Regions from separate parts of the Homo sapiens genome. Here region 2 is linked to region 1. Evidence: fine-mapped expression QTL. A gene starts in region 1. The other region holds a variant in brackets. All regions are shown on one strand. Distances are from middle to middle.

What was found. PIP is the estimated chance that this variant, and not a neighbour inherited with it, causes the effect.
Region 2: its variant is the best candidate, but not a certain one, in a credible set for the expression of LYAR in monocytes (Quach 2016, PIP 0.80).

Annotation. Positions count from the first base shown.
Region 1 is chr4:4,287,666-4,292,057 of GRCh38, reverse strand. It overlaps LYAR (Ly1 antibody reactive), which reads left to right and starts at 1,904. Exons shown (of 10, transcript NM_017816.3): 1 at 1,904-2,022. It overlaps ZBTB49 (zinc finger and BTB domain containing 49), which reads right to left and starts at 1,807. Exons shown (of 8, transcript NM_145291.4): 1 at 1,706-1,807. RefSeq lists enhancers at 2,879-3,416, 3,417-3,955.
Region 2 is chr4:4,265,073-4,269,464 of GRCh38, reverse strand. It overlaps LYAR (Ly1 antibody reactive), which reads left to right. Exons shown (of 10, transcript NM_017816.3): 9 at 850-935; 10 at 1,442-1,764. The coding sequence ends at 1,576. Among named protein-coding and RNA genes, the nearest start is that of TMEM128, 19 kb to the right of the region's middle. RefSeq lists a silencer at 1-64. The variant C/T (reference allele first, on the strand shown) is at 2,142.

The DNA.
Region 1 (4,392 bases):
CAAATGATCCACTCGCCTCAGCCTCCCAAAGTGCTGGGATTACAGGCATGCGCCACCACACCCGCCTAATTTTGGTACTCTTAGTAGAGATGGGGTTTACAGGGTTTCACCATGTTGGCCAGGCTGGTCTCTATCTCTTGACCTCAGGAGCTGCCTGCCTCGGCCTCCCAAAGCGCTGGGATTACAGGCGTGAGCCACCGCACCCAGCCCTGTACCAAAGTTATTAAATGGAGGAAGCAGAAATTAATTTGGGAGGGAGGGTCAGGGAAAACTTCCTGGAAGACACATCTATGCTGAAATGTGAGTTAAGTTTGCCAGACTAAAAAAATGAGAGGGCTCACTTTCTTTGAGTATTCAGGAGGACAAACAAACAAACAACAACAACCAAACCCAAAAACAGTACGAGAGCACAAACAAGACTGAAGTACACATATGTGCCCTGAACACAAAAAACATCTTGAGCACCCTGCTTTTAAGCCTCCTGGCCATTCTGTCACTTCTGTTGGAAAGTATTTCCCTCCTTGTCCATTTCTGTGAATTCCTTCTGTTATGGTTAAACTGTTCCCCCAGCACTCCAGAATGTGATTGTATTTGGAGATCAGGCTTGTAAGAAGGTAATTAAGTTAAAATGAGGCCATTAAGGTGGGCCCTAATACAACCTGACTGACGTTCTCATAAAGAGGAAATCTGGATGCAAAGAGAGACGCCAGAGATGTGAAAACACAGAGGAAAGACCATGCGAGGACACAGCAAGAAAGCAGCCACGTGCAAGCCAAGGAGAAATGTCTCAGAAGAAACCAAACCTGAAGACACCTTGATCTTGGACTTCTAACCTCCAGAACTGTGAGAAAATAATAAATTTCTGTTGTTTAAGCCACCCAGTATTTTGTTTGCAGTCCTAGCAAACTAATACACCTTCTATTCCAGGCCCAACACTGCTCACTTTCAGAGTGAAACCTTATCACCCATATACACACACCTTGGGAGTGAAGGTTTCTCACAATACTCTGTGCATCCTCCACTCAACTTTCATTCATTCATTTAAGCAACAAACACCTAGTGACCACCACTGTGTGCCAGACCCTGTTTTAAGGGCTGAGAAGAGCTAACGTTTATTGAGTACTTACTAAGTGGCAGCCACTAGTCTAAGCGATTTACATGCACCAACTCATGAAATACGACAAGGTTCCAGGGACGCAGGTGCCGCTATGACATTCGCTTTACAGATGCGGGGCTGAGGCACAAAGAGGCCACACCGTAATGAAACTGAGCTAGGCTGTGGGCTCTGTCGTCTTAAGCGCTACTCTCAACTACAGCGTGGAAGGAAACAGAAGCCGAGAGATGGGCAGCGCGTAGCGGAGGCGGGCCGGGCTGGCTTCCAGCGGGCAAAGCCTGGAGATGAGAGGGCGCGGGTGGGGTTTCCAGGCCGAGGAAGCTGCACCAGGGAGAAGGCCCGGCTCCCAGGCCCGGAACCTGGCCGTCTGGGTCTCAGTCCGCGTCCCCTGTGATGCCCGGCACAGAGCAAATGCTCGCTGACTCTCGCAGGAGCCGCCAACCCCCCGGGTATCCTCGAGTGCCCAGAGACGGGAAGGAGCGGTGGGTCCATGCCCTTCTGGGCCACCTTCGGGCGCCCGGCCTCCCTTCCCTTCCGGGCCATTCCCACCAGCGCCAGCCCCGCACGCCTTCGCAAGGCCGGCCACCTTACCCTCGGAGGCCGCTCTCTGCCCCGCCGCCTACTCTTCACCTGCAGCAGCTGCCTTCAAGGCCACTCGCAGCGATCCGCTGGCCGCGGAATCATCACGACAACGCCCCCTTGGCTTGCCGGAACCGCCTTCCTGCTTCCGTTGGCGTCACTTCCACTGGGGGGGGCGTGGCCGCGGTGCGCAGGCGCGCTGGGTGGTTCAGAAGCGAATTCTGCACCGCGAAGCCTGAGAGGCAGGTAGCTGCGGCGCTGGGCTGGCGGCGGCGAGTCCACGTGCTCCCCGCGGCCGGTTGAAACCGTTGGCGGGCGCTGGCTGAGAGGTGAGGGGTGGTGGCCCAGAGGTCCGACCTGGGAGGCTGGGGCTCAGAGAGTGAGTAGGGGAGGGACGGGATTTCCACCGTCAGCCCCTCTGGGTTACGCATGGAGGAAGGAGTTCCATTCAGATCTCACTCCTGCTCTGGGGAAGTGGCAGGAGTCCTGGACTTAGGGTGACCAACTCGTTTTAGTTTTAAAACTTAAGGTCCGGCGTCCTGGGAACTCCCTCGGGCCTGGCCAAACCAGGACGATTGGTCACCGCCCGACTGGGCTTCAGGCTTGCTGCATGTTGGAGACAGGGCTCTTCTCTGAGCCTTGGGAGATCAGTCCCTAAAGAGGAGGCCTTAGGATGTAGCGGTCCAGAGCACATACTTAGGATCAGAATAACTACTGCGTGTGAATCTGGGTTGCCACTACCTGGATGTGGGATGACCTGGTGTAAGTTTTTTAACCTCTTTGCGCCTCACTTTCCTCATCTGTCATAACATATAGAATCTAACTCGGAGAACTGTGATGAGGATTACATGAGTAGAAATGTGTTAACCTCCTATGAGAGGGCTTGGGTGCTCCATGAATGTTAGGATTCTCTGAAGCACCTACCTCTGAGGAGAGAGGGAGGAGGATGAGGTGGGGTCTGTATTTGCAACCCTGATTTCTAGCAGAGAGGGCCCACTTGGGACTTACTCACACTGTGCCCGAGGCTCCCAGGGTCTAGCATAGTGCCTGACACATGGTAGTTACTCGAGTGAAGGGATGGTGTTTAAAACAGTGCTGGTGATGCCGTGGGTGGGGTAGGAGGCAGAGAGAAATGGCTTCTGTGCCTCAGTTTGCTCATCTGTTTAGTGGAGATAGGTGCACCTACTTCCCAGGGCTTTTGCAAGGAACAAGGGAGAGATTCTCTCCTTGTGAATGTCACCCATTGTAACCCTTGTCAGCCTCATACACAAAGGTTTAGGCAGGATGGTGGACAGAGTATGTTTGTCTGTCCTTCTCTTGCACCATACCCATGGTTTCTCAGAATGCTACCCGTGGAAGGGGCTTGAGTCTTGTCAAGTTGGCCTGACTTCTTGTTTCACAGATGAGATAACTTGAAGTTTATAGAGGCAGTGGCATGCTCAGGGTCACAGTGTTCAGTGGGGGATATCCTGGGGTTGCCAGCTAGGCCCCTCAGGTGGGCTGTTTGAGTGGTAGTGGTGGTAATGATGTGTAGGTCAGTGTCTGCATGTGCATGCAAGAATATTTTAAGAATAGTCAAGGCCAAGCGCAGTGGCCCGTGCCTGTCATCCGAGCACTTTGGGAGGCCGAGGAGGGTGGATCACCTGAGGTCAAGAGTTCACAACCAGCCTGGCCAACATGGTGAAACTCCGTCTCTACTAAAAATACAAAAATTAGCCGGGCATGGTGGCATGTGCCTGTAATCCCAGCTACTGGGGAGGCTGAGGCCGGAGAATCACTTGAACCTGGGAGGCAAAGGCTGCAGTGAGCCGAGATTGCGCCATTGTACTCCAGCCTGGGCAACAGAATGAGACTCCGTCTCAAAAAAAAAAAAAAAAAGAAAAAAAATTGAATAAGTAATACAAAAATATAGAGGGAAGAAGATTTAAAAAAAATCATTCCAATCTCAGAACCAAACCTAAGGGCATGTTATCAGGGAACTTGGTAAAGTAGGCAGCCATGGGGTGAGGAGCCAGAGAAGGTTGGAGTGAATTTATGAACATAAATGGGTGGGTTGATGGTCATATTTAAAGGAGCATGGGTTTAGGAGGGGGCTGGGTATAATAGCATTGATGTGCAAATTAGTAGGTCACAGAGAAACCTTTCTACAATTGGGCAGGGATGAAGCTTTCATATCTGGTGTCTTATTTAACTTTCCACCCAATGCTTTGAGTTAGGTATTAGATCCATTTTACAGATAAACAGATTCTGGGAAGTTAAGGTGCTTTGAGGTCATTTAGTTTTTAATGACTTTTTTGACATTAGCAGATGTAGGCTCCAGCTCAGATCCTCTACACCTGAGTCAGGGCCCTGTCCAACAAAAGCTGGCAACCATCTTGTTAAGAGAAGACTAACAAGTTCCCAGCCCCTTAGTGACCACTGGCTGCTGCCCCTCAGCTAGCTTTGCTGTCCAGACCCTGACAGCCTCTCCTGTGACATGGGTGGTCTCCTTGCCCACTGCACAGAGGTTTTATAATTAAGACTTAGGGTTCTAATATTTATACATGGAAAGTCATCTTATAGAGACCTTAATTTTTTTTCTCTTTGGATGAGGACCTCAAGGTCCCAGGTGCTGAGTAACCACCAAGCAAACGGCTAGGACATGGCAGGTCAAGATGGAGGCAGGGTGGGAGCCTGGGCTTGCTGCCTGGTCTTTCAGG
Region 2 (4,392 bases), 23 kb after region 1:
TTCTGTGACACCGTCCCTCATTACAGCCTTGCGAGGGTAGAGAACTCAGGCTCGCCACTCGGCTTTTGCTGGTGCGGGTGGGGGTGGAGCCACCGTTTTTTCTGTGATGTGTGGCTGCAGTAGGGTTGTTATTATACAAAAGTTTTCTGTCTTGCTAGGCTGCCGTTTCCCGGTCCTTTGCCAAGAGAGCAGGCTTCTGTTGGGACTGTTTTGTCTGTGCTGTTGGTGTTCAGGTTGCTGGGTTCTTCAACTCCAGATCTGGGGTACAGGCAGCAAGAAGCTCACCCCGTGTTGCTCTGCAGGCCCCGAGGTCCCAGCTGGTCTCTACCTTTCAGAGTCTTCTTACATTTCTTGCCTATATAGTTTCAGGGTTCTCAGTTGTAGTGGGCAGGAGGAAGGGGAAAGTGTGTCCACTCCATCTTCCCAGAAGCAGAAGTTCCCTAGATGAGTATTTTTAGTTCCTCTATAATAGTTTGTGGTTGTCCTCTCTCTCATTTCAGGTCAAGCTGTTTTGCTCATCTTTGTCCTCCCTACTGTGCATGGACAGCCCCATGATCTTAGTGGATGCTTAGGAAATCTGTGTTGAGTTCATTACATACAACTCTATCTAGGAGTTTGTCATGCCAATAGCACATGGGCACCTGCTCACTCTTAAGAGCCAGTCCTTTGAAGGGTAGTGAGTGCTTCTAGGACATTGGAATTGAACAGATGCTTGGTGCTATGGAGTCTGGTTCATTAGAGGGTTAGCTCATTTCCTGGGAAGCAAATAGGTGTTGCAGAAGTTGTTTCTTTACCCTTCTCGTAGTACAACAAAACGAAATGTCTTAAATATTATTATTTATATTGTAGGTAAATTCAACTGGAAGGGAACTATTAAAGCAATTCTGAAACAGGCCCCAGACAATGAAATAACCATCAAAAAGCTAAGGAAAAAGGTATGGCATATGAACAAACCCACGTGTCTAACAGCTGGGGAGAACTTATTTCTAAATGTACAATTGTTTGTTTTTTTCTTTTTTCACCTAAAACACTGAAAATCTGTGTGTGTGTCTCAGTGATTTTCAAGCTGCTCCAAAGCCCCACACAGCCTCAGCCAGGGTGGTGCCTAGATTTTGGGCTTGTTTATAAGACTTTGAAGAGAGGCTCCATTTATTTAATTTTTATTGTTTGGAAATTATTTTCTAGATATTTGCTCTCTTTTGCCTATCCCAGAGCAGTGGTTTCTTCTCCTTTATTTCACTTTGTTTCTCAGGATGACTCACACATGGCCAAACCCCTGCACGTGGCTGCCGCCTGGGTTTTCCAAGGAGAGCACGCCGGTGTCGCTTGCTCCTGGGTTTCTTTTATTTTTTCCTGTTGTTCTATTTCTGGGTTAAAGACAGAACATTTTAAGATAATTTTCCAGGTCAAATACACTCATTTGATGTTTTTCTTTGTGAAGGTTTTAGCTCAGTACTACACAGTGACAGATGAGCATCACAGATCCGAAGAGGAACTCCTGGTCATCTTTAACAAGAAAATCAGCAAGAACCCTACCTTTAAGTTATTAAAGGACAAAGTCAAGCTTGTGAAATGAACATTTGTGTATTTAAAAATTGAATCCATTCTGCTGACTTCTTCCTTTCACTGCTGTTTATAAAATGTGTAATGAATTCTAACAACTCAAATTTTGCTTTTTGAAGCTGTATTTTTAAGTTAAGAAAATATATTTTTGGTATAACTTTTATGAGAAAAATAAAATATATTCTGGTCCAAACTTCTAAATTTGTTGTGGCAAAAATTACTGAACTTTACAAAATAGTTTTGTGTGAAAAAATTTTTTTCAATGTAGTGCAGCAACAAGTAAAAAAGTAATTCCTCTTTTGATCAGACTAAAAAGTATTCATTTTAACCACATCATTTCTACACTTTGTTGTTATTGTTGTTTGAGAAAGGGTCTCTGTCGCCCAGCCTGGAGTGCAGTGGCACAATCTCAGCTCACTGCAACCTCCATCTCCCAGGTTCAAGCAATTCTGCCTCAGCCTCCTGAGTAGCTGGGATTACAGGCATCCGCCACCACACCTGGCTAATTTTTATATTTTTAGTAGAGCCAGGGTTTCACCATGTTGGCCAGGCTAGTCCCAAACTGACCTCAAGTGATC[C/T]GCCTGCCTCGGCCACCCAAAGTTCTGGGATTACAGGCATGAGCCACTGTGCCCAGCTATTTCTACACATTTTTGATTAGAGATGTTTTGTGCGTTTGTTTTTTGTGTTGTTGGAATGTGTATGTGAACTGCGGGAATGGTCATGACAAGAGTCTTGTATGTGTTAATCCTTCTGTAGCCAGAAGTATGGTGCTATAGAGGAGGCTTCTCTGTAACAGGTTCACCCATCCACACTGGCCCCATCTACCTTCAGCCAAAGAGACGAGTTTGTCAGTGGCTGGATTCAGGAGCATGGCCTGTGACTGGAAGCGAGAGGCACAGGGAAATAGCTCATTGGAGACTGAATCTCTTGTGCAGCTGTGTGGCTGCTCCAGTGCTCTGATTGGACTGAATGCTTTCAGAAACAGTGTTTGAAGTCCTGGTTGATTGTGCTGTAGGACAGCCTTTTTGCCACCTCTTGGATGGTTCAGTAGGTTTTGCCCACAAGACCCTTAAAAGCTGGTCCTCTGGTACAGATCACCCCTTAGCCAGTTTCATTAATATCTCATCAATTCCCCACAAAAGCAAGTCTGGGACATGGAACAAGTAGTTTAAAGGGTTAGGACGGAGAGGAGGGATGAGAGGGAGGACAGAGGCCCTGTCTGAGCCTCTGAGTGCCCAGAAGCCCACGGAGCAGCTTCACTCTGGGACTTGCCAGCCAAGCCAAGCAGCATCTTGAGTTCAGTGCTTATTAGGCGATGTGCCACATATAAGTGTAGTGACGGCATTGAGTGGCACTGTCAGAATGAGTAGGACTCAGGCTTCAGAATCAGGCCCAGAGTCAGGTCCTGACTCTGTCCCTTATTGGCTAACCTCTGAACCTCACTTTTCTCAGCTGGACAATGGGGATAGTAAAGGTTGTGAGTGAATGAACTAATTCACGTAAAGGACACAGCATGTTCCCTTATTAGACACAATAGATCCCCTCAGTGGGTGCTGTCACTACTCTTACCGTTACCAGTAACAATTTTTGGGCCATGAGAAGCTTTAGACATTCTGGAAAGCAAAAGAAAACTGAGAAAGTGAAACAACCCAGACCACATACCTAATTAGGGACAAAAGCAGAACAGAGCTGTGACTCCGCAGTCCAGTCCCGAAGTCTTCCTATGCCAGCACTCCAGGGAGCAGAGGGAGGTGTGCTCTGCAGTTATCACCCGGGCACAGGGGAGATGCAGGGCCACCCCGTGAGAGTCACATGATGTTCTACAAGCGCCATGGAATTTCAGTTTGTGATTGTATTAGTTTGTTTTCACTCTGCTGATAAAGATATACCTGAGATGGGGTAATTTATAAAGAAGAAGAAGTTTAATGGACTCACAGTTCCACGTGGCTGGGGAGGCCTCACAATCATGGCGGAAGGCAAAAGGCATGTCTTCCATGGCGGCAGACGAGAGACGAGAGAGAATTTGTGCAGGAAAACTCTTTATGAAACCATCAGGTCTCGTGAGACCTATTCACTATTACAAGAACAGCACAGGAAAGACCCGTACCCATGATTCAATTACCTCCCACCGGGTACCTCCCACAACACATGGGAATTGTGGGAGCTACAATTTAAGATGAGATTTGGGTGGGGACACAGCCAAGCCATATCAGGGATCTTTATTTTTCCGTCAAAACTATCAGTTACCGTGATACATTTAAGGCAAAGTTTGGCAAATGTGACACAGTTAAAAGGTGTCCTTAGCACTGCAGCAGAGTCTTCATTTCTGTCCTTGCCATCCATTACCCCAGGTTCTCGAGAGTTAGAACTTCTGGGGCTGGCTGTGCTGCTCAGGAATTTCAGCAGAGCATCCATCCCACAGGGGCTGGAGGTGGCTTTAGCTCCCTCAACTCTACAAGGACAAAAAAGCAAAGCTAATGATGGTGACTCTGATGGTCCGTGTCATGGAAGGGTCTGCAGTCAGTGGCAGGAAGGACTAGCTGTAAGTGCAGTTGCTCCAGGGGTCTGGCTGCAAAGCATGGTCCAGGGGTCATTCCCAATGTCCTTGCAGAGACCACCCGTTTCAGTTTGGGCAGCTAGCTGCCTGCCTGACTTGGACTCAAAACACACATGATATTGAAGTTCCTAGAGACTTTAGAAAGTGATCTGATGATATTCCTGTAAGGCTTTTCAGCTTCATTTTGTCTAAGTTGGGTATATGGTTGAATTCTACCATGTTCTGCCTGTCCTCAGCCTGGTCTGATGAGCCTGACACTTGGGTATCTCCAA